3 separate regions of the Homo sapiens genome follow, and regions 2 and 3 are each linked to region 1. Evidence: fine-mapped QTL for protein levels in blood plasma. A gene starts in region 1. Each other region holds a variant in brackets. All regions are shown on one strand. Distances are between the middles of the regions.

Region 1 (8,190 bases):
TCAAGCCTGTAATCCCAGCATTTTGGAGGCTGAGGCGGGTGAATTGCTTGAGGTCAGGAGTTTGAGACCAGCCTGACCAACACAGTGAAACCCCGTGTCTACTAAAAATGCAAAAATTAACTGGGCGTGGTGGCGGGCACCTGTAATCCTAGCTACTCAGGAGGCTGAGGCAGGAGAATCGCTTGAACCTGGGAGGCAGAGGTTGCAGTGAGCTGAGATTGCGCCATTGCACTCCAGCTTGGGCAACGGAGCGAGACTCCGTCTCAAAAAAAAAAAAAAAAAAAAAAAAAAACCCAAAAACCAGAAAAAAATAAAAAAAAACATAAAACTGCCGGGCATGGTGGCTCACCTCTGTAATCCTAGCGCTTTGAGAGGCCAAGGCGTTAGTATCACCTGAGGTCAGGAGTTCGAGACCAGCCTGACCAACAAGGTGAAATCCCATCTCTACTGAAAATACAAAAATTAGCCAGGCGTGGTGGCAGGTGCCTGTAGTCCCAACTATTCAGGAGGCTGACATAGGAGAATCATTTGAACCCAGGAGGCGGAGGTTGCAGAGAGCTGATCACACCATTGCACTCCAGCCTGGGCTACGGAGGAGACTCTGTTTCAAAACAAACAAACAGAAAACCAAAAAAACACTTAGCATAGTACTTAGAACATGTTTTTCCCTGAGTAAATGGTGCTATTATTATTCTTCCACCTGTTGAAGTTCCTGTTCAGGTGCTGAGTCTCTTTGTTTAAATATGGATTCCTCCCAGGAGGATCTTGCTTAACACATAGGAATAGAGAAGATAAAGGTTTACTCATCTAGTGTAATCATCCTTTTAGAAATTGTCTTCCTAGTGGCTTCCCCATAAATTCTTCCATACACCTGTCCAAGGAAACTGTCCTGTGTGGACCAGAAGCCTCCCCCTCCTCATGACTGGGCAGAGAAACTAGAGGCCTTTCAGGCCAGGCCCTCAGCAACTCCAAACTGAGTTGCCTTGGACACATACCAGTCTTTGAATTCATTTACTAAGCAGGCAAGGCAGAGTGGAAACAGTGGAACTATGTTAATCTCCCGTCTTTTCTCCTCTAAACCCTAGTACTAGAGATGTAAGCCTTGAAATGCTACTAAGGAACGTGCGGGTTTCACAATAGCAGGAGGCCATCTGAGAGGAGGACAAGACTCCACAGGCATGTTGGATTTGGGAAGCAGGGCTATAGTCATTCATTCATTCATCCAACACATAGTTATGTAATTCCTATGTGACAGGAACTATTTCAGGCATATAGGATACAGCAATGGCTTGCTCAATTTATTGAGACTTGTTTCGTGGCTCAGCATATAGTCTGTCTTGGTGAATGCTCCACATTCCCACCAACAGACTTATAAAGACAGTATTGTTTATTATCATCTCAAATTTACGGTGGAAAAAAATGAACCTTACATAGTTTAATTTCCTTTAGTCCTACCCAGCTACCAAGTAGCAACACTGGAATTTGAACTGAGATTTCTGACACCATAATCTGAGCTCTTAAGTTTCTCTTTTACACATAGAAAAGGAGAAACAAATTGTCTTTTCATCTTATCCATTTGACTGCAGGTAAAGTCAACAAGTTTCTAATCATGGGGTTCTGAAAATAATATTTACATTGCTCTGAGTCACGGGGATTTTCATCAAATAATATTCAATAGTGGATACTACTCAATACTACTGTGAGTTGCCAAGAAGGAATATTTGGTAAAAAATATAGTAATTAAATTTTGCTATAATTTATGATTATGTAACATGATTAAATTGAGCATGGCATCATTTAACATCCAACAAATTTTGTTTTGGTATTGAAGAATGATGTGTTTAAGTTTTAAGGCTGGATTTTCTTTCTAGACACTTTCAACTATGAAATATACACAATATTGGACAATAGTTAACCGTTCTTTTGATGTTGTTGTTTAGAAAATTAATCTCAAGCGAATAAAATAGAATTCATACAATTAATGAATCCTATTATTCCATATGGATGAACTCAGAACTAACTAGAAAGTAAGTTTCACAGAGATTTTTGAGTTTTGTTCACTCGTGTGTGTACAGATTAGGCACTCAGAAAATAGTTGAAGGAATGAATTGGGAAAGCAAATAGAATATGAAAGCCTTCTACCCAACACAACATGTCTTTGAGTTTAGGTTTAGGGTGGGAATAAGAAAAATAACATGATATGCATAAGTTATCTTAAAATGATAAAAAGTTTAATTTAAAAACCTAATTTACCAAGAGAACCGAAAACATATGTCCACACAAAAACTTGTACACAAATGTTCATAGTAACATTATTCATAACATCCCCAAAGGAGAAACAACCCAAATGTTCATCAACAGATGAATGATTAAACGAAATGTGATACATCGATACAATGGAATATTATTCAGTTATAAAAAGGAATGAAGTACCAATACATACTACATCATGGATGAACCTTTAAAATATTATGCTAAGTGAAAGAAGACAGACACAAAGGGCACATATTGTATTATCCATTCATATAAAATGTCCAGAATAGGCAAATTAATAGAGACAGAAAGTACATTAGTGGTTGCCGAGGGATGAGGGGAGAGGGGAAATGGGGAGTGACTATTAATGGGCATGGGGTTTCTTTTGGGGGCGATTAAAATGGAATTAGATGGTGGTGATGGTTGTACAATCTGGTGAGTATACTAAAACCCACTGAATTGTACGTGCCCTTTAAAAGGGTGAATTTTATGGTATGTGAACTCTCTTTTATAAAGTGGAAAAAAACTCCTAAGATCTCTTCAGAACATGTCAAAATACATTATAAAATAATAGACATGTGTTTACAAATCTGAGAGTATTAGGAAATGTTCCCTTGTTTAATTATAAACCAAATGGAATGTTTGGAGATTTCAGTAATCTGACAGGGAACATTAAGGGGATTAACCTGACTTCCCCAGTGTTAACAATACCAATTTAAACTGCATCATTCAAAAACTACATAGTCATATTAAAGCATTTGTAGCAATGACTTCCACGAAAAAAATACCAATTAAATTAATTACCCATTAAAGCTGCCATCATCTGAAATACCTCATATTTATATAGTGCTTTTACTTCCTCAAGTATGAATTGTGCCTTAAGATCTAATGTATGGGAGAGTCACATCTCTAACCATTTAATTAAAGGTAGAGAAGTGGGTGGGATTGGATAGAAATTTATTAGCAATGCTGACATTCCAGATTGGAACACAAAGACAAGCAGGATGTAAGAAACCTAAAAGTTCGCTTTCAATGCAGATAGTTAAATGCCAAGAACTATAATTGCCACATCCTGGAGTACAATTAAAAAATATGTTGAAAAACAACCAACATACATAAAAATATACACAGTGTTAAGTGCAGACTATGAAATTTCCCTTGGAAACAGAATCCAGATCAAGAAATAGAATACAGCACCCGGAACTAAGGTGCTTTTTCGTTTTCTTAAAAAAAAAAAAAAAGTAAACCAAGTTTATTTTGCTTTTTAAGTAGTGTTGTTCTTAAAGCACTACAGGTTGGTAAACAACGTATAAGGTGCTTTTTCTCAGGCCAAAGAGCCATAATAGTTTAAATTTCCCGGTCCTCAAGAGCGGACCGGGTGGGCAGGAGAGGACCCTGGGGTGGTGATGTGTAAACTGTATTATGCACTTTAGCCTGCTGGATGGCAACTAACACCTACAGTAGTTCACCCTCATTTTAACCCCTCTAAGTAATTGTCTCTTATTCTGAATCTAGAGATTCAGAAACAGCGCCAATGTTTACACACGACTTTTGAAATTTTCCCAGGAGTCTTTCGTTGGAGCAATACATCTAGATGCCTTTTTCCAGCAACAGTTTAATCAAATTCTGGAAGCAGAAAAGTGTCCTGTGAGGACGTGCCTTTCCTATCAAAGTGCTGAGTGCCTGGACCCTCTTTCCGGAGGAAACAGTCCCCTCTGGACCTCGTTCGGCCTCTCTCCATCAGACACCCCAAGGTTCCATCCGAAGCAGGCGGAGCACCGAACGCACCCCGGGGTGGTCAGGGACCCCCATCCGTGCTGCCCCCTAGGAGCCCGCGCCTCTCCTCTGCGCCCCGCCTCTCGGGCCGCAACGTCGCGCGGTTCCTTTAACAGCGCGCTGGCAGGGTGTGGGAAGCAGGACCGCGTCCTCCCGCCCCCTCCCATCCGAGTTTCAGGTGAATTGGTCACCGAGGGAGGAGGCCGACACACCACACCTACACTCCCGCGTCCACCTCTCCCTCCCTGCTTCCTCTGGCGGAGGCGGCAGGAACCGAGAGCCAGGTCCAGAGCGCCGAGGAGCCGGTCTAGGACGCAGCAGGTGGGACTCGCGGCGCTGGCCCGCAGGCTTCCCGCACCCCCTTCCACGTTGGTGCGCATGCCCGGGGGCAGGGCCGGTTGTAGGGAGGAGGGAAAGGAGAGGGAGAAGGGGGAGGAGACGTCCCCAGCCCAGTCCCCGGCTGAGCGCTGGCGGTCGGTGCGGCGTCAGGTGCGCCCGCCAGGTGAGCGCGCTCCCTGGCACCGTTGGCCCCCGGAGGGTCGGGCCCAGTTGCGGCGAGCGGGTGAGTGTTGGGCGCGGCGTCAGGGGCGCACGGGAGCCCGAGGGTCCCCGTGGGGGGACCGCGGCGACTATGTTAGGGGAGGTGCCGGGGGGAGGACGCTCCGCGCTGGTTTCGGTGGCAGTTTCGTCCCCGAGCTGGGACTCGTGGGAACCAGAGAGGCGCGGGTCTGCGGAGAGAGCAGCACCGGCCAACTTGGGAGGCTGCCTCCTGGGGCGAGGGGTGGCTTGGAGCCGCCGATCAAGCTTTATTCCGCGGAAACGCTGAAAGCTAGCAGTGCCTCAGCGGCGCGGGCAACTTTTCACTTTTATGGGGCACGACATTCCTGAACAGCGACGATCCTGCATCCGCTCTGGGGCTGCAGTTTGGGGGGGCGGCCTTCATGGAGAGGGATCCTGCGCCCAGCTCCTTGGGGGTCCTAAGCCTGAGGCTGCAGCGAGGCGGCTGTTCGGCGGCCCGGGCGGCTTAGATCCCGGGGGGAATTTCATTCCTTCCGCTCCCACCCCACCCCTTTGGATATCCCGGGGAGACGGGGGCTGGATTCAATCTGTGAAATATTCCAGGAGTCACGGTGTGGGCCACACTGGCTACTTCGAATCCACTTGTTGCGAGTTGTGTGAACCCGCGTCGATTTAAGCTGGGGGGCGGGGAGTTAATTTCGAGTGAGGCTGGACTTCGAGGGAAGCTGCTCACGCTTCGGATTCTCATCCGTGACCAAAAGGGCTGCCCCCAGGGGGGCGGAACTGCCTCCGGGCGGTGCCTGCCCGGCGAACGTGGGCGCGCGCTGCCTGGGAGCGCCTCGGTGCGCACGGAAGCCGGGACCCGCGCCCAGCCGGGCCACGGAGTTTGGGGACCTCCGGGACTGGGCCGGCCCCGCGCGCCAGCCATGTTGCCTGCGTCGGAGGAAGCGTGCGGGGAGCAGGGGTCGAGGGCCAAGATGGCCTCTGCGCCTAGGGGTTGGGAGCGGCGCCGAGCCCCTCGCGCTCCTCGGGAAGCCACCGGGCCCGAGGGAAAAGCCGCGGCATCCTTAGGCCGGACCCGGGGCTCGCTGGCCACACTGCCCGCTTGGGGAATTACCCTGCTCGAGGAGGAGGCGGCGGCTTTCCAGGCCAGTCAGTGTGTGGCCCTTAGGCAACAGGTGTATTATTGGGATACCTGGAAAAGAGAAACGTTTCCCATGAAGGCACTTATGGTGTTTTTTGGTGATTCTTGGTGTGATAGAAAACTAGGCGTTCCCAAGTGTAACAATAGTAACAGTAGTTCTTTTGCACTGTACATATGAGGTGCTTGTGTGTGTGTGTGTGTGTGTTTTTCCGAGACGGAGTCTGGCTCTGTCCCCCAGTGCAGTGGCATCATCTGGGCTCACTGCAACCTCTGCCTCCCGGGTTCAAGCGATTCTCCTGCTCAGCCTCCCGAATAGCTGGGATTACAGGCACCCACTAGTATGCACAGCTAATTTTTGTATTTTTAGTAGAGACAGGGTTTTGCCATTTGGTCAGGCTGGTCTCGAACTCCTGACCTCAGGTGATTCGCCCGCCTTGGCCTCCCAAAGTGCTGGGATTACAGGCGTAAGCCACCACACCCAGCCTTTATGAATATTTTCTTAGTGGTGCTTTAAAATAGACATCTTAAGTGTGTGTGGGAGGCAGAGATATTTCCTCAAACAAAGCAACACTTTTTTTTTGGTCGTTTTGCAATTTATTTAGTTATTAGGGGCCTCCTTTGTTAGGTGACGGAGCAGAGGATAGGGAGATCGGTAAGACATGATTCTCCACCTTTTGGCAGTTTCCAGGCCATTTCGGGAAATAGTGGGCAGCAGTGCCTCCTGCACGTGAGGCACTGTGGTAAAAGCATTCTGTATTTTCTCATTTAATTATCCCAACAACTCTAAAAGGCAGGCCTTAGTAGAACTCCATTTTAAAAGTGGGCAAATGCCGTGGGGGAAACGTTGCAGGTGGGCTTGCTTGCAAACTGCTTCAGCTAATATGGGAAGGAGTATCAGAAGCAGCGGTCCTTGATATTCCAGAACCAGATTTGGGGAATTTTTCTGGACTTTTCTACCATTGACTAGTAACTGTAGCCTGATACAAGATTTCCCGCATTTTGCTTGATATCAAGGTAAAATTCTTGTTTTCTTCTAAAGGTAGTGTTGGAATTACTACCTTTTCAAAATAGTATATTACTTTTAACCACATAAATGATCTGATGTAATATCTTTCATCTTCCTAGGAACCTCCCAGAAGGAAGTTTTCTTCAGTTGCATTTTAAGGCTTATTTGATTGGAATATTAATGGATCTTTTTCATCAAATTACTATTTATGGAAATAAGAGAGTAAACAGACCATGCAGATTTATGTTAGGCTTTTTGTTTTAACCCCTAGGCTTGCCGCTGTTCCGTAACCCAGTGATTCCAGTCTTGGCTGTGGTATGAATCACTTAGGGATCCTATTAAAACACAGATTCTGATTGGGAGGTCAGGAGTGGGGCCTGGGATTCTGCCTTTCTAACAGGCTCACAGGTGATTCTCAGACTGTTCTGTCTTCTTTTTCTCCCTTTCTCTTAGACTCTACGCACTTAATTACATTTGACAAACTGAAGTTGGAAAAAATAACGTTTATTGAGTGTTGTGTGAAGAACTTCAAGGCATTCACTGCTGGATTGAAATCCCAACTCTAATAATTGACTGTTGGTTTTATTAATTGAGTACTCATTGACAATCACTTTGTGCCAGGGCTAGTTCCAGCGACCAGGGATATAAATGATGGTCAAAATAGACATTTGATGTCTGGGATATGGGCATTCCAGATGCGGTGGAGATGATACCTATATTTTAGGTATGAGGGCAGAGGGGAGTTTGCTCTGAAAAAAAAAACAAGTTTTGTGTGATGGAGTGAGGGACAGGGAGGGCATCTCCCAGAAGGTGACGTCTGAGCTGAGACCTGAACAGCAGGTGTCTGTTGTGTAAAAGATCTGGGCTTTCTAGACAGGAAATTGCAAGATCAATGTCCTTTTTGGATTGACACCTTTATTGTAGACAGCAATTCTCAAAATATGTGATGTGTTTAAAAATCACCTGGAAGATTTATTAAAAATACAATTTCTGACACAGAGTCTATTACAAAATCTGCCTAACTTCAAATTTTTAGACAATTTACTAATGATGTGCCTGTAGTCTAAATCATTTAATATAAGGCACAACTTAAACTTTTTTTTTTTTTTTTGAGACAGAGTCTCGCTGTCTCCCAGGCTGGAGTGCAGTGGCACGATCTTGGCTTACTGCAAGCTCCGCCTCCCGGGTTCACACCATTCTCCTGCCTCGGCCTCCCGAGTAGTTGGGACTACAGGCGCCTGCCACCATGCCCAGCTAATTTTTTGTATTTTTAATAGAGGCGGGGTTTCACTGTGTTAGCGGGGATGGTCTCGATCTCCTGACCTCGTGATCCTCCCGTCTCGGCCCCCCAAAGTGCTGGGATTACAGGCGTGAGCCACCGCGCCCGGCCACAACTTAAACTTTTTAAAGGCAAATTGACAGTTACTGCATGTGCTCTAAAAGGAACAGACTTCTCTTAAATACAATAAAGTTTATTTTTCACTTATTGACA
Region 2 (8,190 bases), 350 kb after region 1:
TTTACCAGTAAGGAATCAAATAGTGTGTGTAGTGTTTTGAACCACATTTTTTTGCTTAATATTATATTTGTGAGACGAATTGACTATATGACCTGCAAATGAAACTATTTATATTTATTTCTCTAATATTTTATTAGGTGATCATATTACAACTTATTTGTTTACTGTACTCTTTATAAGTATTTTAGTCCACTTTTGGGCCACAGTTTGGGGTTATTTTGGTGTTATTCTGAAAAGTGTTTTCATGAGTACACATTTTTTTTTAGCTATATATATGCATGCATTTCTGGAGAAACCATCTTTACAAGTAGAATTTTGGGGCCTAATACATATCTTTATCCAAATTATTTGAACTAAGTTATGCCAATAACATCAATTTGAGTGTTCTAATTAGTCAACATTCTCATCAATACTTTGCACTTTCTCTTCAACTTAGAATTCTAAAATATTCCTTTCAAATTCAGGATTCTGAATGACAAGTACTTACATCTCATTGTGGTTTGAATTATTTTTTCAGGTAACCAATATAAATAAAAACCTTTTAATAAGTTCATTGGTTATTTGAATATTTTATTTTTGAAGTGTCTAAAGTATTTTCTTTCTAATCCAGTCCAGTTATTTTTCTGTGGTTTGCTTCTTGTTGTCTTATTGAGTTCATTGCCTTTTTAATATTCTTTTCCGGTTAACATTTCCCCCTCACTGATCTGAAATGTTTTCATTATATACCACCTTTCCATATCTGTCAATGTCTTGATTTTCTATATGATCTTCATCTATCTGTAGTTATAACTCATTTTAATCATAGAAGCTTTAAGAATTGCTTAATATTTTGTATTGACTCCAAATTCCATTGATTTTATAGGATATTTCTAGCTATTCTTGCTTCTTTATTCCTCCAAGTAAATTTGTCTATTTTTCTAAATCTGGAAAAAGAAATTCTAGAAAATGTCGTTTTGTTATGACACAGAAGATATAAGTTTATTTAAAGAACTGGCACATTTATGATTTTAAGGCTTTTTCAAGAGCATGGAATTTCTTTCCCCGTGCTCAAGTCCAAATTTGTGCCATTCAGAAGTGTTTTCTAGTTTTTTTTATATATAGGTTTTAAACATTTCTGGTTAAGTTTATGCCCTCACATTTTATTTTAGTTTGGTTAATGACGTTTTACATGTGTGAGTTCCCTCAATTATTTCTTTTAAATGTTCTGATTCAATAGGAACACTCTCCTTAGTATCCTTAACAGAAATGATTCTTGTTTATAGAATTGCTAAATAAGTAAAGAAATTTTAAGTTAAATCATGGCAAGGAGTTATAATTATACTAAGCTTTTTTGTTCCTAGAGGTTTTGGCTCACTCATATGGTAATCTATATGAAAATTTTTCTGTGATATCTAATATTAGAAAGATCCTCAGTGATAGAATAGTGTTTCTTCCTAGCTGATTCATACATCTTTCTCTGCCAACATTTTGTTTGTTGAAGTGTTCCCCAACATATGACTCATTGCTTACTAAATCCCTATTGAGCAGCCAAAGCCCTGGTGACTAATTATGTCATTAATTTGGGAAAGTCAGAGACAATAAGACTGTCAGTTGAAACTTTGTAGGAGGTAAAAAAGTCACTGCTGTCAGCTGCAAAGATCCTTAAAACGGTCTTCAGTAAAGTCAAATTTTGTGACAAGAATTATTGCATCAAAGTCGGGGAAATACCTCTTAGATCAAATAAGATACATTGAAAAGCCAAAAATTATTTTTATCTCACTTTGGGTTCTCATAAGGTCTACCCACTGTTACTTGGATATGAGACTTAACAAATGGAAAAGAAGACAGGGGTACTGTCACACTGTATTTTCCTACGGCCTAATGACCACAATGGTTGATGAACTGCAGTAAAGTTTCTATAATATTTTCCATCTATTCATTTGCTCAATCACCTTGTAATGGTTATGTTGGTTAATTCCAGTCTTTCATGGGTAAGCAACAAAATGAGACTTAATTTGAAATATCCAGTATTTTTCTATTCTTACAAATAATTTTCAGGATCAATGCACTGAGGATTAGGAATGGCAATGTGTATTACTACTTTGATACCAACTATATCCAATCTAATGTTGGAATTTGTTTGACAAAGTGTTATGTATTTGAAAACAGGCAGCACTGAATAAAAAGAATATGGGCAAAAGAAAAATGGAAGTGTTTTGAATGGAAGTCTAAAATATTTATTGATCAATGCTGAACTGAGTAAGCAGGAGATGCCTGTACATAAATGACATTATCCTGATCTAGTAACAGGGAGAAGCAGAATATCTGAAAGCTGTTTATTAATTTGATAATAATAAGATTAGAAACATGCAAATCAAGATTAATAGTATTCACTTCTAATTGGGTTTAGGTAGACTTTGACTATTTTGCTTCTGATGTTCTTATATTTTTAATTTTCTATAATGATCATATAACATATAATATTTTCATAATATTAAACATTTTAGAATTAAACTCCATTAGAGTGTATCTTTCCTAAAATAATATAAACATCCAATCTTGTCCTTAACAATTCTGTTCTCAAACATTAGCCTATTCCCTCAAGCCAGTGTTGCTTTCGACCCATATTGTCCATCATTTCAATTTATCTCAAAGTTTTTTATTGCAACAATTAAATGCTTTGAATGATACCCAAGGCATAGTTCTATTTCAACAAAATTTCAAAGTTAATAGTTACATCAAATTTTGTTGGTGCTCATTGAATTTGGTTATTAAAACCATAAGTAGTATGTTTTATGCTGACTGAGGGAGATAAAAGTAGTAATGTTTAATATTCAAACTGTGATGACTGAAAAAAAAATGAGGCCTGTAAAATCTTATTTAACGTCAAATTTTAATTAAACAGGCTTAGCAGACCAAAATTAAAATCTCAATTATTTTTAAATTATTAATGACAGACAACTAGATTGAGTGAACACTGGCATCTCTTTTCAAATAACTTAGTTTAGTGGATGAGTTAAACATAAACTAGTTATTATAATGCAGCGAAGTATGTGAAAAATTTAATTTGAACCCTACTTAGCTTAAAATCCTGACATTCTAGGATGCAAGTCCTGCAAACTTTCCATATGTAATCAACAATTTTCTAAACATGCATGCTGTATCTCTCCTGTGTGACTTTGCATACATCATTCCCACATTCTAGATCATCCCGACCCACCTTAAGTGACTGCTTTTGCATAATCTCCCTTAAAATTCTAACTCAAGCACTGCATCTTTTGAGTCCTTCCCTAACATCTTAACATCTTCCTTCTTTCATTCATCATTAACTATAGTTAGTTATTATAGCACCTGTTAGCACTGTAAAATTATGTGTGTTACACAAGTACAACATGCAGACTAAGGTCGTGTATTACCTAGCCTCATACCAGCGTCACCTAGAACAGCAAAAATGTATGCAGATTAATCACAATATATTTGGATGTACAAAATATATTGAGAGCAAAATATGATGGAAATTTAGGTGATGCTCTTTGAGCATTGCTTCCATTTTCCAATAATGTAACCAGGAATCACTGTTCATGTAATTAAAGAACAATAAGTCTATGTGAATCAAAATATACATATACATGCAAATGTTAAACCTCAGCAGGAAGAGGCCCATTCTCTTGCTTGCTGATATATATATATATATATATATATATATATATATACACACACACACACACACACACACATATATGTATGTTGTGTGTATATGTATATACACACAACAATCTATAGGCTTGCCTTTTAAAATAGTATAAGCAACAAATTTTAAGAGAAACAATAATGAGTGTGTAAAACATTAGATATGTGTATGTACCTTTGCTATTATTTGTGGAAATGGGGCTATAAAATAAGCTCCTTTATTTTCTTTTGTAAAACATTTCTTTAATATGAAGTAATGCAATACGTATTTATGTTCTAAGTGTTAATTTCCTTGGATATAAAATAATATCTTGTTCCTTTGATTCTCTTACATATAAGTGTATTTACTCAGATATTACTCCAAATACACCAGATATATTCAAAGTTGAAAAAATATATACTTTGGAATGTATTATCACCTTATTTCACATGAAGAAATCAAAATCTCTGGCATCCAAGTGCATTCCAGCCTGAAAAAAATTATGCAATTGTGAATTTAACAGAAAGCAAATTGCTCACATATGGAGTCAACGTGAAGCTATATCAATATTTATTAAAAGTTTATATATTACTTTTGATCCCCTGGAGAGAAATACAAAATTCAAATAATTATTCTATTTTTATATCCCAATTTGTAATTATGAAACTCTAGCATTTTAATTTTTCTCTTTCAAGTTTACCTGAAGCTTCACAAAATTCTGTGAGGAATCTATTATAACAGGTATTTTGCTTATTTCCACACAAACAGAAGGAAATGTGTATTTTCTATGCCCTGAAGAATTTACTCTTTTCTGTAAATGACATATGGTAGTTAATTCTTTTTGGTAATAAAATATTCCTGTTTTTAGGCCGAACAGCCTTTTCTTTAAATTCAGGGCAACATATCAAAGCTTTGCCGTAATAATACAGAGTAATCGACTAAAGTAATATAGAATTTAAATAACAAAGAGTTTAAACAATTTAATATGTCTTCTATTAATTTCAAACTGAAATTTTACAGAAATTATTTGGAATATGCTGCCAGAGTACACACACACACACACACACACACACACACAC[A/AT]ATCACACGCTCACATCACACACTCACACCCAGCTAAAGGAAATTACCACAGCTATAATGATTTCATTAAATATCTGAAATTAAAGTTTCTTTTGGATTTTCAGCTGAAGCTCATAGTAAATAAAAGTAATATGATCATTGTTGCATACTGTGAATCAACAGCACCCAGAAACCTTCGACTTTCTATATTTACACAGCTTAATTATCCGAACTGAAACCTGAGGCCATCTGTGTCAACATGATTTCACAATTCATTCCAGAAAATTATTTTTCAGGAAAGTAAGGCTGCAAACCAATAAATAACTTATTGTTTGCTTCAGGAAATTTCTGCAAATCAATTTATGTCAGTAAGCAACTCTCCTCTGGGCCAACAGATTGCTCACCTGGGCAGGTAGCAGCTTGTGTCAATTAACAGTTTACTTATGAAGACTTCTGTCATGGCCCTTAACTCACAGTGTCCCCCAATCCTAAACTCTATGTCCTGAACATTACCTATTCTTATCAGTCATTGGTCTTGAAAGGCCCCGGGCAACCATTTGAGCCCAGACTTCAATACTCTATCAATACCACCTTATCATCTACTTTTCTAACATGACCCCTCAAGGTGGTGACCCCACTTACAGTCGTCTTTTATTGAATTTAGCTTTCCCTAATCAACATGCTAGTCTATTGGATGCAGTGTCGGAGGCAAAAATCACAGAGGTTCTGAAAGCATCAGCCCATGGTTTTCTAAACATCATGGTTCAAGACCCTTAACACGAAACAGAAAGTTTCCCCGAGGCGCCGTAAACAACCCATTTGGGCGCTTCCCTGATAATTATAGTGAAATCTGGCATCTAATTTTTTTTGGTGGACTCTCAAATTTTATATTTATGTTTTGATTCCTAGAAATAAAAAATGTTTTTATAAGGAATTCTTTGATCGTTTATGTTTTATTCTTGATAGAAACCTACTACTTTATAACTTCGTTTATGTTTTACTCTTGATAGAAACCTACTACTTTATAACTTCGAACATTATTGATGTTCTTCCTGTATTTCTGAGAGGTGACAGCTTGCTGGCATCCCTCGCTGGCTCTCGGCACCTCCTCGGCCTCAGCCCACTCTGGCCGCGCTTGAGGAGCCCTTCAGCCCGCAGCTGCACCGTGGGAGCCCCTCTCTGTGCTGGCTGAGGCCTGAGCGGGCTCCCTCTGCTGGCGGGGAGGTGTGGAGGGAGAGGCGCGGGCCGGAACCTGGGCTGCCTGCGGGGCTCGCCGGTCCAGCGCGACTTCCGGGTGGGCGCGGGCTCGGCGCGACTTCCGGGTGGGCGCGGGCTCGGCGCGCCCCGCACTCTTGAGCGGTCGGCTGGCGCCGCCGGCCCTGGGCAGTGAGAGGCTTAGCACCCGGGCCAGCAGCTGCGGAGGGTGCACTGGGTCCTCCAACAGTGATGGCCCGCCGGCGCCGCGCTCGAATTTTCGCTGGGCCTCAGCCACCTCCCCGCGGGGCAAGGGGGCAGGGCTCGGGACCTGCAGCCTGCCATGCTGGAGCCCTCACCCTCCTCCCCGCCCCCGTCCCCTGCCCCCCGCCCCCCGCCCCCCAACCGCAGGCTCCCGCGCGCCACCCCGAGGGGACGGGCGCCACCTCCTGCTACGCGGCACCCGGTCCCGTCAACCGCCCAACGGCTGAGGAGTGCGGCAGCGCGCCAGAGACTGGCGGGCAGCTCCGCCCGCGGCCGGGATGCACTAGGCAAAGCCAGCTGGGCTCCTGAGTCCGGTGGGTACTTGGAGAACTTACTACGTCTAGCTGGAGGATTGTAAATGCACCAATCAGCATGCTGTGTCTAGCTCAAGGTATGTGAACGCACTAATCAGTGCTCTGTGTCTAGCTAATCTGGTGGGGACTTGGAGAACTTTTGTGTCTAGCTAAAGGATTGTAAACAGACCAAGCAGCTCTCTGTAAAATGAACCCATCAGCTCTCTATGAAATGGACCGATCATCAGGATGTGGGTGGGGTGAGATAAGGGAATAAAAGCAGCTGCCAGAGCCAGCAACAGCAACGTGCTAGGGTCCCTTTCCACAGTGTGGAGGCTTTGTTCTTTTGCTCTTTGCAGTCTTGCTGCTGCTCACTGTTTGGCTCTGCGCAGAGCTGTAACACTCACCAAGAAGGTCTGCAGCTTCACCCAAAGATATTCCAAAGATACAGAAAACTATATAGAGACATTTTGTATAGTTCTAATAGCATATAATCCACAGGTCCCTGATCTATAATATGGGTTTTTTATAAAATTGTTTTTTTGTATGCTATGAGGAATTTTACTTGTTAAAAAGAAGAGGTGGAAAGGCAGAATATGAAAACTATGAAAATGACATAAGAGACTATGAATTAGGTGAGAAACCAGAGAGGTTTAGAAACCTGTAGACATTGTGCATCCCCCAATGCCTTTCCCCTTAAAAAAATATTATATTCTAGTCCAGTCCATCAAATAAAGTCTACATTCATTAGAAACATATTCTCTTGGTTTTTATAATTTCAGTTTTTTCCAGACACAGTGCATATGCAGATTTGTTACTTTTGTACAGTGCACCCTGGTAGTGAGCATAGTACCCAGTAGGTAGTTATTCAGCCCATGCTCCCCTCTCTCCCCCACCCCCATAGCCTGCAGCATGTCTTGTTCCCATGTTAATGTTCCTGTGTGCTCAGTGTTTAGGTTCCACTTATAAGTGAGAATGTGTGGTATCTGGTTTTCTTTTCCAGCACTAATTTGCTTAGGATTATGTCCTTAGCTCCATCCATGTTGCTGCAAAGGACATAATTTCATTCTTTTTTATGGAGGCATAGTATTCCATAGTGTATATGTACCACATTTTCTTTATCCAATCCACCTTTGATGGGCACCTAGGTTCATTCCATGTCTGTGCTATTGTGAATAACATGCTGATGAACGTACGAGTGCATATATATTTTTCTGGTAGAATAATTTATTTTCCTTTGAATATATACCCAGTAATGGGAATGCTGGGTCGAAGGGTATCTCTGTTTTAAGTTCTTAGAGAAATCTCCAAAATACTTTCCACAGTACCTGAACCAGTTTACATTTCCATCAACAGTAGTGTATAAGCATTCCCTTTACTCTGCAGCCTGGCCAACATCTAATTTTTTTACTTTTTAATTATAGCTGTTGTGACTGATGTGAGATGGCATCTTACTGTGGTTTTTGCTTGCATTTATTTATTTGATGATTAGTAAGGATGAGTGTTTTTTCATATACTTGAGTGTCTTCTTTTGAGAAAATATCTGTTCATGTCCTTTGCCTTTTCTTGATTTAAATTTTAAGTTCTGGGGTACATGTGCAGGAAGCGCAGTTTTGTTACATAGATAAACGTGTGTGGTGGTGGTTTGCTGCACCTATCAACCCATCACCTAGGTATTAAGCCCAGCATGCATTAGCTATTTTTCCTGATGCTCTCCCTCTCCTCAACCCCC
Region 3 (8,190 bases), 1.8 Mb after region 1:
CACTTAAGCCAATGGAACAGAATAGAACACTCAAAAATAAAGCTGCACACTTACCACCATCTGGATCGTGGACAAGGCCAACAAAAACAAACAATGGGGAAAAGGCACCCTATTCAATAAATGGTGCTGGGATAATTCGCTAGCCATAAGCAGAAGAGTGAAACTGGATGCTTACCTTCCACCATACACACAAATTAATTCAAGATGGATTAAAGGTTAAAATGTAAGACTTCAGATTATGAAAACTCTAAAACAAAACCTAGGAAATATTTTTCTCGACATTGGCCTTGGCAAATAATTTTTGGCTAAGTTTCTAAAAACAATTGCAACAAAAACGAAATTGACAAGTGAAAGTCAATCAAACTAAAAAGCTTCTGCACAGCAATAGAAACTATCCACAGAGTAAACAGACAACTTACAGAATGGGAGAAAATATTTGCAAACTATGCATCTGATAAAGATCTAATATAACAAATCCATAAGGAAGAAAAAATGACAAGCATAAAACAACCCCAGTTAAAAAGGGCAAAGCTAATACAGGAGCAGAAAATCAAACTCCGCATCTTCTCACTTATAAGTGGGAGCTGAACAATGGGAACACATGGACACAGGGAGGGGAACAACACACAATGGGGAACAACACACAACACACACTATAATTTTCTGTAGGGGGTTGAGGAGAGGGAGAGCATCAGGAAAAATAGCTAATGCATGCTGGGCTTAATACCTAGGTGATGGGTTGATAGGTGCAGCAAACCACCACCACACACGTTTATCTATGTAACAAAACTGCGCTTCCTGCACATGTACCCCAGAACTTAAAATTTAAATCAAGAAAAGGCAAAGGACATGAACAGATATTTTCTCAAAAGAAGACACTCAAGTATATGAAAAAACACTCATCCTTACTAATCATCAAATAAATAAATGCAAGCAAAAACCACAGTAAGATGCCATCTCACATCAGTCACAACAGCTATAATTAAAAAGTAAAAAAATTAGATGTTGGCCAGGCTGCAGAGTAAAGGGAATGCTTATACACTACTGTTGATGGAAATGTAAACTGGTTCAGGTACTGTGGAAAGTATTTTGGAGATTTCTCTAAGAACTTAAAACAGAGATACCCTTCGACCCAGCATTCCCATTACTGGGTATATATTCAAAGGAAAATAAATTATTCTACCAGAAAAATATATATGCACTCGTACGTTCATCAGCATGTTATTCACAATAGCACAGACATGGAATGAACCTAGGTGCCCATCAAAGGTGGATTGGATAAAGAAAATGTGGTACATATACACTATGGAATACTATGCCTCCATAAAAAAGAATGAAATTATGTCCTTTGCAGCAACATGGATGGAGCTAAGGACATAATCCTAAGCAAATTAGTGCTGGAAAAGAAAACCAGATACCACACATTCTCACTTATAAGTGGAACCTAAACACTGAGCACACAGGAACATTAACATGGGAACAAGACATGCTGCAGGCTATGGGGGTGGGGGAGAGAGGGGAGCATGGGCTGAATAACTACCTACTGGGTACTATGCTCACTACCAGGGTGCACTGTACAAAAGTAACAAATCTGCATATGCACTGTGTCTGGAAAAAACTGAAATTATAAAAACCAAGAGAATATGTTTCTAATGAATGTAGACTTTATTTGATGGACTGGACTAGAATATAATATTTTTTTAAGGGGAAAGGCATTGGGGGATGCACAATGTCTACAGGTTTCTAAACCTCTCTGGTTTCTCACCTAATTCATAGTCTCTTATGTCATTTTCATAGTTTTCATATTCTGCCTTTCCACCTCTTCTTTTTAACAAGTAAAATTCCTCATAGCATACAAAAAAACAATTTTATAAAAAACCCATATTATAGATCAGGGACCTGTGGATTATATGCTATTAGAACTATACAAAATGTCTCTATATAGTTTTCTGTATCTTTGGAATATCTTTGGGTGAAGCTGCAGACCTTCTTGGTGAGTGTTACAGCTCTGCGCAGAGCCAAACAGTGAGCAGCAGCAAGACTGCAAAGAGCAAAAGAACAAAGCCTCCACACTGTGGAAAGGGACCCTAGCACGTTGCTGTTGCTGGCTCTGGCAGCTGCTTTTATTCCCTTATCTCACCCCACCCACATCCTGATGATCGGTCCATTTCATAGAGAGCTGATGGGTTCATTTTACAGAGAGCTGCTTGGTCTGTTTACAATCCTTTAGCTAGACACAAAAGTTCTCCAAGTCCCCACCAGATTAGCTAGACACAGAGCACTGATTAGTGCGTTCACATACCTTGAGCTAGACACAGCATGCTGATTGGTGCATTTACAATCCTCCAGCTAGACGTAGTAAGTTCTCCAAGTACCCACCGGACTCAGGAGCCCAGCTGGCTTTGCCTAGTGCATCCCGGCCGCGGGCGGAGCTGCCCGCCAGTCTCTGGCGCGCTGCCGCACTCCTCAGCCGTTGGGCGGTTGACGGGACCGGGTGCCGCGTAGCAGGAGGTGGCGCCCGTCCCCTCGGGGTGGCGCGCGGGAGCCTGCGGTTGGGGGGCGGGGGGCGGGGGGCGGGGGGCAGGGGACGGGGGCGGGGAGGAGGGTGAGGGCTCCAGCATGGCAGGCTGCAGGTCCCGAGCCCTGCCCCCTTGCCCCGCGGGGAGGTGGCTGAGGCCCAGCGAAAATTCGAGCGCGGCGCCGGCGGGCCATCACTGTTGGAGGACCCAGTGCACCCTCCGCAGCTGCTGGCCCGGGTGCTAAGCCTCTCACTGCCCAGGGCCGGCGGCGCCAGCCGACCGCTCAAGAGTGCGGGGCGCGCCGAGCCCGCGCCCACCCGGAAGTCGCGCTGAGCCCGCGCCCACCCGGAAGTCGCGCTGGACCTGCGAGCACCGCAGGCAGCCCAGGTTCCGGCCCGCGCCTCTCCCTCCACACCTCCCCGCCAGCAGAGGGAGCCCGCTCAGGCCTCAGCCAGCACAGAGAGGGGCTCCCACGGTGCAGCTGCGGGCTGAAGGGCTCCTCAAGCGCGGCCAGAGTGGGCTGAGGCCGAGGAGGCGCCGAGAGCCAGCGAGGGATGCCAGCAAGCTGTCACCTCTCAGAAATACAGGAAGAACATCAATAATGTTCGAAGTTATAAAGTAGTAGGTTTCTATCAAGAGTAAAACATAAACGAAGTTATAAAGTAGTAGGTTTCTATCAAGAATAAAACATAAACGATCAAAGAATTCCTTATAAAAACATTTTTTATTTCTAGGAATCAAAACATAAATATAAAATTTGAGAGTCCACCAAAAAAAATTAGATGCCAGATTTCACTATAATTATCAGGGAAGCGCCCAAATGGGTTGTTTACGGCGCCTCGGGGAAACTTTCTGTTTCGTGTTAAGGGTCTTGAACCATGATGTTTAGAAAACCATGGGCTGATGCTTTCAGAACCTCTGTGATTTTTGCCTCCGACACTGCATCCAATAGACTAGCATGTTGATTAGGGAAAGCTAAATTCAATAAAAGACGACTGTAAGTGGGGTCACCACCTTGAGGGGTCATGTTAGAAAAGTAGATGATAAGGTGGTATTGATAGAGTATTGAAGTCTGGGCTCAAATGGTTGCCCGGGGCCTTTCAAGACCAATGACTGATAAGAATAGGTAATGTTCAGGACATAGAGTTTAGGATTGGGGGACACTGTGAGTTAAGGGCCATGACAGAAGTCTTCATAAGTAAACTGTTAATTGACACAAGCTGCTACCTGCCCAGGTGAGCAATCTGTTGGCCCAGAGGAGAGTTGCTTACTGACATAAATTGATTTGCAGAAATTTCCTGAAGCAAACAATAAGTTATTTATTGGTTTGCAGCCTTACTTTCCTGAAAAATGAATTGTGAAATCATGTTGACACAGATGGCCTCAGGTTTCAGTTCGGATAATTAAGCTGTGTAAATATAGAAAGTCGAAGGTTTCTGGGTGCTGTTGATTCACAGTATGCAACAATGATCATATTACTTTTATTTACTATGAGCTTCAGCTGAAAATCCAAAAGAAACTTTAATTTCAGATATTTAATGAAATCATTATAGCTGTGGTAATTTCCTTTAGCTGGGTGTGAGTGTGTGATGTGAGCGTGTGGTGTGTGTGTGTGTGTGTGTGTGTGTGTGTGTGTGTGTACTCTGGCAGCATATTCCAAATAATTTCTGTAAAATTTCAGTTTGAAATTAATAGAAGACATATTAAATTGTTTAAACTCTTTGTTATTTAAATTCTATATTACTTTAGTCGATTACTCTGTATTATTACGGCAAAGCTTTGATATGTTGCCCTGAATTTAA[A/AT]GAAAAGGCTGTTCGGCCTAAAAACAGGAATATTTTATTACCAAAAAGAATTAACTACCATATGTCATTTACAGAAAAGAGTAAATTCTTCAGGGCATAGAAAATACACATTTCCTTCTGTTTGTGTGGAAATAAGCAAAATACCTGTTATAATAGATTCCTCACAGAATTTTGTGAAGCTTCAGGTAAACTTGAAAGAGAAAAATTAAAATGCTAGAGTTTCATAATTACAAATTGGGATATAAAAATAGAATAATTATTTGAATTTTGTATTTCTCTCCAGGGGATCAAAAGTAATATATAAACTTTTAATAAATATTGATATAGCTTCACGTTGACTCCATATGTGAGCAATTTGCTTTCTGTTAAATTCACAATTGCATAATTTTTTTCAGGCTGGAATGCACTTGGATGCCAGAGATTTTGATTTCTTCATGTGAAATAAGGTGATAATACATTCCAAAGTATATTTTTTTTCAACTTTGAATATATCTGGTGTATTTGGAGTAATATCTGAGTAAATACACTTATATGTAAGAGAATCAAAGGAACAAGATATTATTTTATATCCAAGGAAATTAACACTTAGAACATAAATACGTATTGCATTACTTCATATTAAAGAAATGTTTTACAAAAGAAAATAAAGGAGCTTATTTTATAGCCCCATTTCCACAAATAATAGCAAAGGTACATACACATATCTAATGTTTTACACACTCATTATTGTTTCTCTTAAAATTTGTTGCTTATACTATTTTAAAAGGCAAGCCTATAGATTGTTGTGTGTATATACATATACACACAACATACATATATGTGTGTGTGTGTGTGTGTGTGTGTGTGTATATATATATATATATATATATATATCAGCAAGCAAGAGAATGGGCCTCTTCCTGCTGAGGTTTAACATTTGCATGTATATGTATATTTTGATTCACATAGACTTATTGTTCTTTAATTACATGAACAGTGATTCCTGGTTACATTATTGGAAAATGGAAGCAATGCTCAAAGAGCATCACCTAAATTTCCATCATATTTTGCTCTCAATATATTTTGTACATCCAAATATATTGTGATTAATCTGCATACATTTTTGCTGTTCTAGGTGACGCTGGTATGAGGCTAGGTAATACACGACCTTAGTCTGCATGTTGTACTTGTGTAACACACATAATTTTACAGTGCTAACAGGTGCTATAATAACTAACTATAGTTAATGATGAATGAAAGAAGGAAGATGTTAAGATGTTAGGGAAGGACTCAAAAGATGCAGTGCTTGAGTTAGAATTTTAAGGGAGATTATGCAAAAGCAGTCACTTAAGGTGGGTCGGGATGATCTAGAATGTGGGAATGATGTATGCAAAGTCACACAGGAGAGATACAGCATGCATGTTTAGAAAATTGTTGATTACATATGGAAAGTTTGCAGGACTTGCATCCTAGAATGTCAGGATTTTAAGCTAAGTAGGGTTCAAATTAAATTTTTCACATACTTCGCTGCATTATAATAACTAGTTTATGTTTAACTCATCCACTAAACTAAGTTATTTGAAAAGAGATGCCAGTGTTCACTCAATCTAGTTGTCTGTCATTAATAATTTAAAAATAATTGAGATTTTAATTTTGGTCTGCTAAGCCTGTTTAATTAAAATTTGACGTTAAATAAGATTTTACAGGCCTCATTTTTTTTTCAGTCATCACAGTTTGAATATTAAACATTACTACTTTTATCTCCCTCAGTCAGCATAAAACATACTACTTATGGTTTTAATAACCAAATTCAATGAGCACCAACAAAATTTGATGTAACTATTAACTTTGAAATTTTGTTGAAATAGAACTATGCCTTGGGTATCATTCAAAGCATTTAATTGTTGCAATAAAAAACTTTGAGATAAATTGAAATGATGGACAATATGGGTCGAAAGCAACACTGGCTTGAGGGAATAGGCTAATGTTTGAGAACAGAATTGTTAAGGACAAGATTGGATGTTTATATTATTTTAGGAAAGATACACTCTAATGGAGTTTAATTCTAAAATGTTTAATATTATGAAAATATTATATGTTATATGATCATTATAGAAAATTAAAAATATAAGAACATCAGAAGCAAAATAGTCAAAGTCTACCTAAACCCAATTAGAAGTGAATACTATTAATCTTGATTTGCATGTTTCTAATCTTATTATTATCAAATTAATAAACAGCTTTCAGATATTCTGCTTCTCCCTGTTACTAGATCAGGATAATGTCATTTATGTACAGGCATCTCCTGCTTACTCAGTTCAGCATTGATCAATAAATATTTTAGACTTCCATTCAAAACACTTCCATTTTTCTTTTGCCCATATTCTTTTTATTCAGTGCTGCCTGTTTTCAAATACACAACACTTTGTCAAACAAATTCCAACATTAGATTGGATATAGTTGGTATCAAAGTAGTAATACACATTGCCATTCCTAATCCTCAGTGCATTGATCCTGAAAATTATTTGTAAGAATAGAAAAATACTGGATATTTCAAATTAAGTCTCATTTTGTTGCTTACCCATGAAAGACTGGAATTAACCAACATAACCATTACAAGGTGATTGAGCAAATGAATAGATGGAAAATATTATAGAAACTTTACTGCAGTTCATCAACCATTGTGGTCATTAGGCCATAGGAAAATACAGTGTGACAGTACCCCTGTCTTCTTTTCCATTTGTTAAGTCTCATATCCAAGTAACAGTGGGTAGACCTTATGAGAACCCAAAGTGAGATAAAAATAATTTTTGGCTTTTCAATGTATCTTATTTGATCTAAGAGGTATTTCCCCGACTTTGATGCAATAATTCTTGTCACAAAATTTGACTTTACTGAAGACCGTTTTAAGGATCTTTGCAGCTGACAGCAGTGACTTTTTTACCTCCTACAAAGTTTCAACTGACAGTCTTATTGTCTCTGACTTTCCCAAATTAATGACATAATTAGTCACCAGGGCTTTGGCTGCTCAATAGGGATTTAGTAAGCAATGAGTCATATGTTGGGGAACACTTCAACAAACAAAATGTTGGCAGAGAAAGATGTATGAATCAGCTAGGAAGAAACACTATTCTATCACTGAGGATCTTTCTAATATTAGATATCACAGAAAAATTTTCATATAGATTACCATACGAGTGAGCCAAAACCTCTAGGAACAAAAAAGCTTAGTATAATTATAACTCCTTGCCATGATTTAACTTAAAATTTCTTTACTTATTTAGCAATTCTATAAACAAGAATCATTTCTGTTAAGGATACTAAGGAGAGTGTTCCTATTGAATCAGAACATTTAAAACAAATAATTGAGGGAACTCACACATGTAAAACGTCATTAACCAAACTAAAATAAAATGTGAGGGCATAAACTTAACCAGAAATGTTTAAAACCTATATATAAAAAAAACTAGAAAACACTTCTGAATGGCACAAATTTGGACTTGAGCACGGGGAAAGAAATTCCATGCTCTTGAAAAAGCCTTAAAATCATAAATGTGCCAGTTCTTTAAATAAACTTATATCTTCTGTGTCATAACAAAACGACATTTTCTAGAATTTCTTTTTCCAGATTTAGAAAAATAGACAAATTTACTTGGAGGAATAAAGAAGCAAGAATAGCTAGAAATATCCTATAAAATCAATGGAATTTGGAGTCAATACAAAATATTAAGCAATTCTTAAAGCTTCTATGATTAAAATGAGTTATAACTACAGATAGATGAAGATCATATAGAAAATCAAGACATTGACAGATATGGAAAGGTGGTATATAATGAAAACATTTCAGATCAATGAGGGGGAAATGTTAACCGGAAAAGAATATTAAAAAG

Which allele goes with the higher level. Alleles are on the strand shown, and positions count from the first base shown. The strength of an association depends on the size of the effect and on how common the allele is.
For the plasma level of the protein whose gene starts at base 4,481 in region 1, AT is the low allele of the variant in region 2 and A is the other (weak association).
In carriers of allele A in region 3, the plasma level of the protein whose gene starts at base 4,481 in region 1 tends to be higher than with AT alone (moderate association).

The links. PIP is the chance, under the fine-mapping model, that this variant and not a neighbour inherited with it causes the effect. Protein levels are from antibody-based Olink assays in UK Biobank. Linkage for the fine-mapping came from a reference panel and not from the study's own genotypes, which makes the PIPs less certain.
Region 2: its variant is fine-mapped to the plasma level of the OCLN protein (UK Biobank, PIP above 0.99).
Region 3: its variant is fine-mapped to the plasma level of the OCLN protein (UK Biobank, PIP above 0.99).

The regions. Positions count from the first base shown.
Region 1 is chr5:69,488,310-69,496,499 of GRCh38, forward strand. OCLN (occludin) reads left to right here and starts at 4,481. Exons shown (of 9, transcript NM_001205254.2): 1 at 4,481-4,591.
Region 2 is chr5:69,838,358-69,846,547 of GRCh38, forward strand. It overlaps LOC105379623 (a long non-coding RNA gene), which reads right to left and starts at 6,007. Exons shown (of 5, transcript XR_001742419.2): 1 at 5,726-6,007; 2 at 4,089-4,139. RefSeq lists an enhancer at 5,573-6,396. The variant A/AT (reference allele first, on the strand shown) is at 4,729.
Region 3 is chr5:71,287,293-71,295,482 of GRCh38, forward strand. LOC105379016 (a long non-coding RNA gene) reads right to left here and starts at 2,564. Exons shown (of 3, transcript XR_948416.3): 1 at 2,303-2,564. RefSeq lists enhancers at 1,598-2,423, 2,424-3,249. The variant A/AT (reference allele first, on the strand shown) is at 4,322.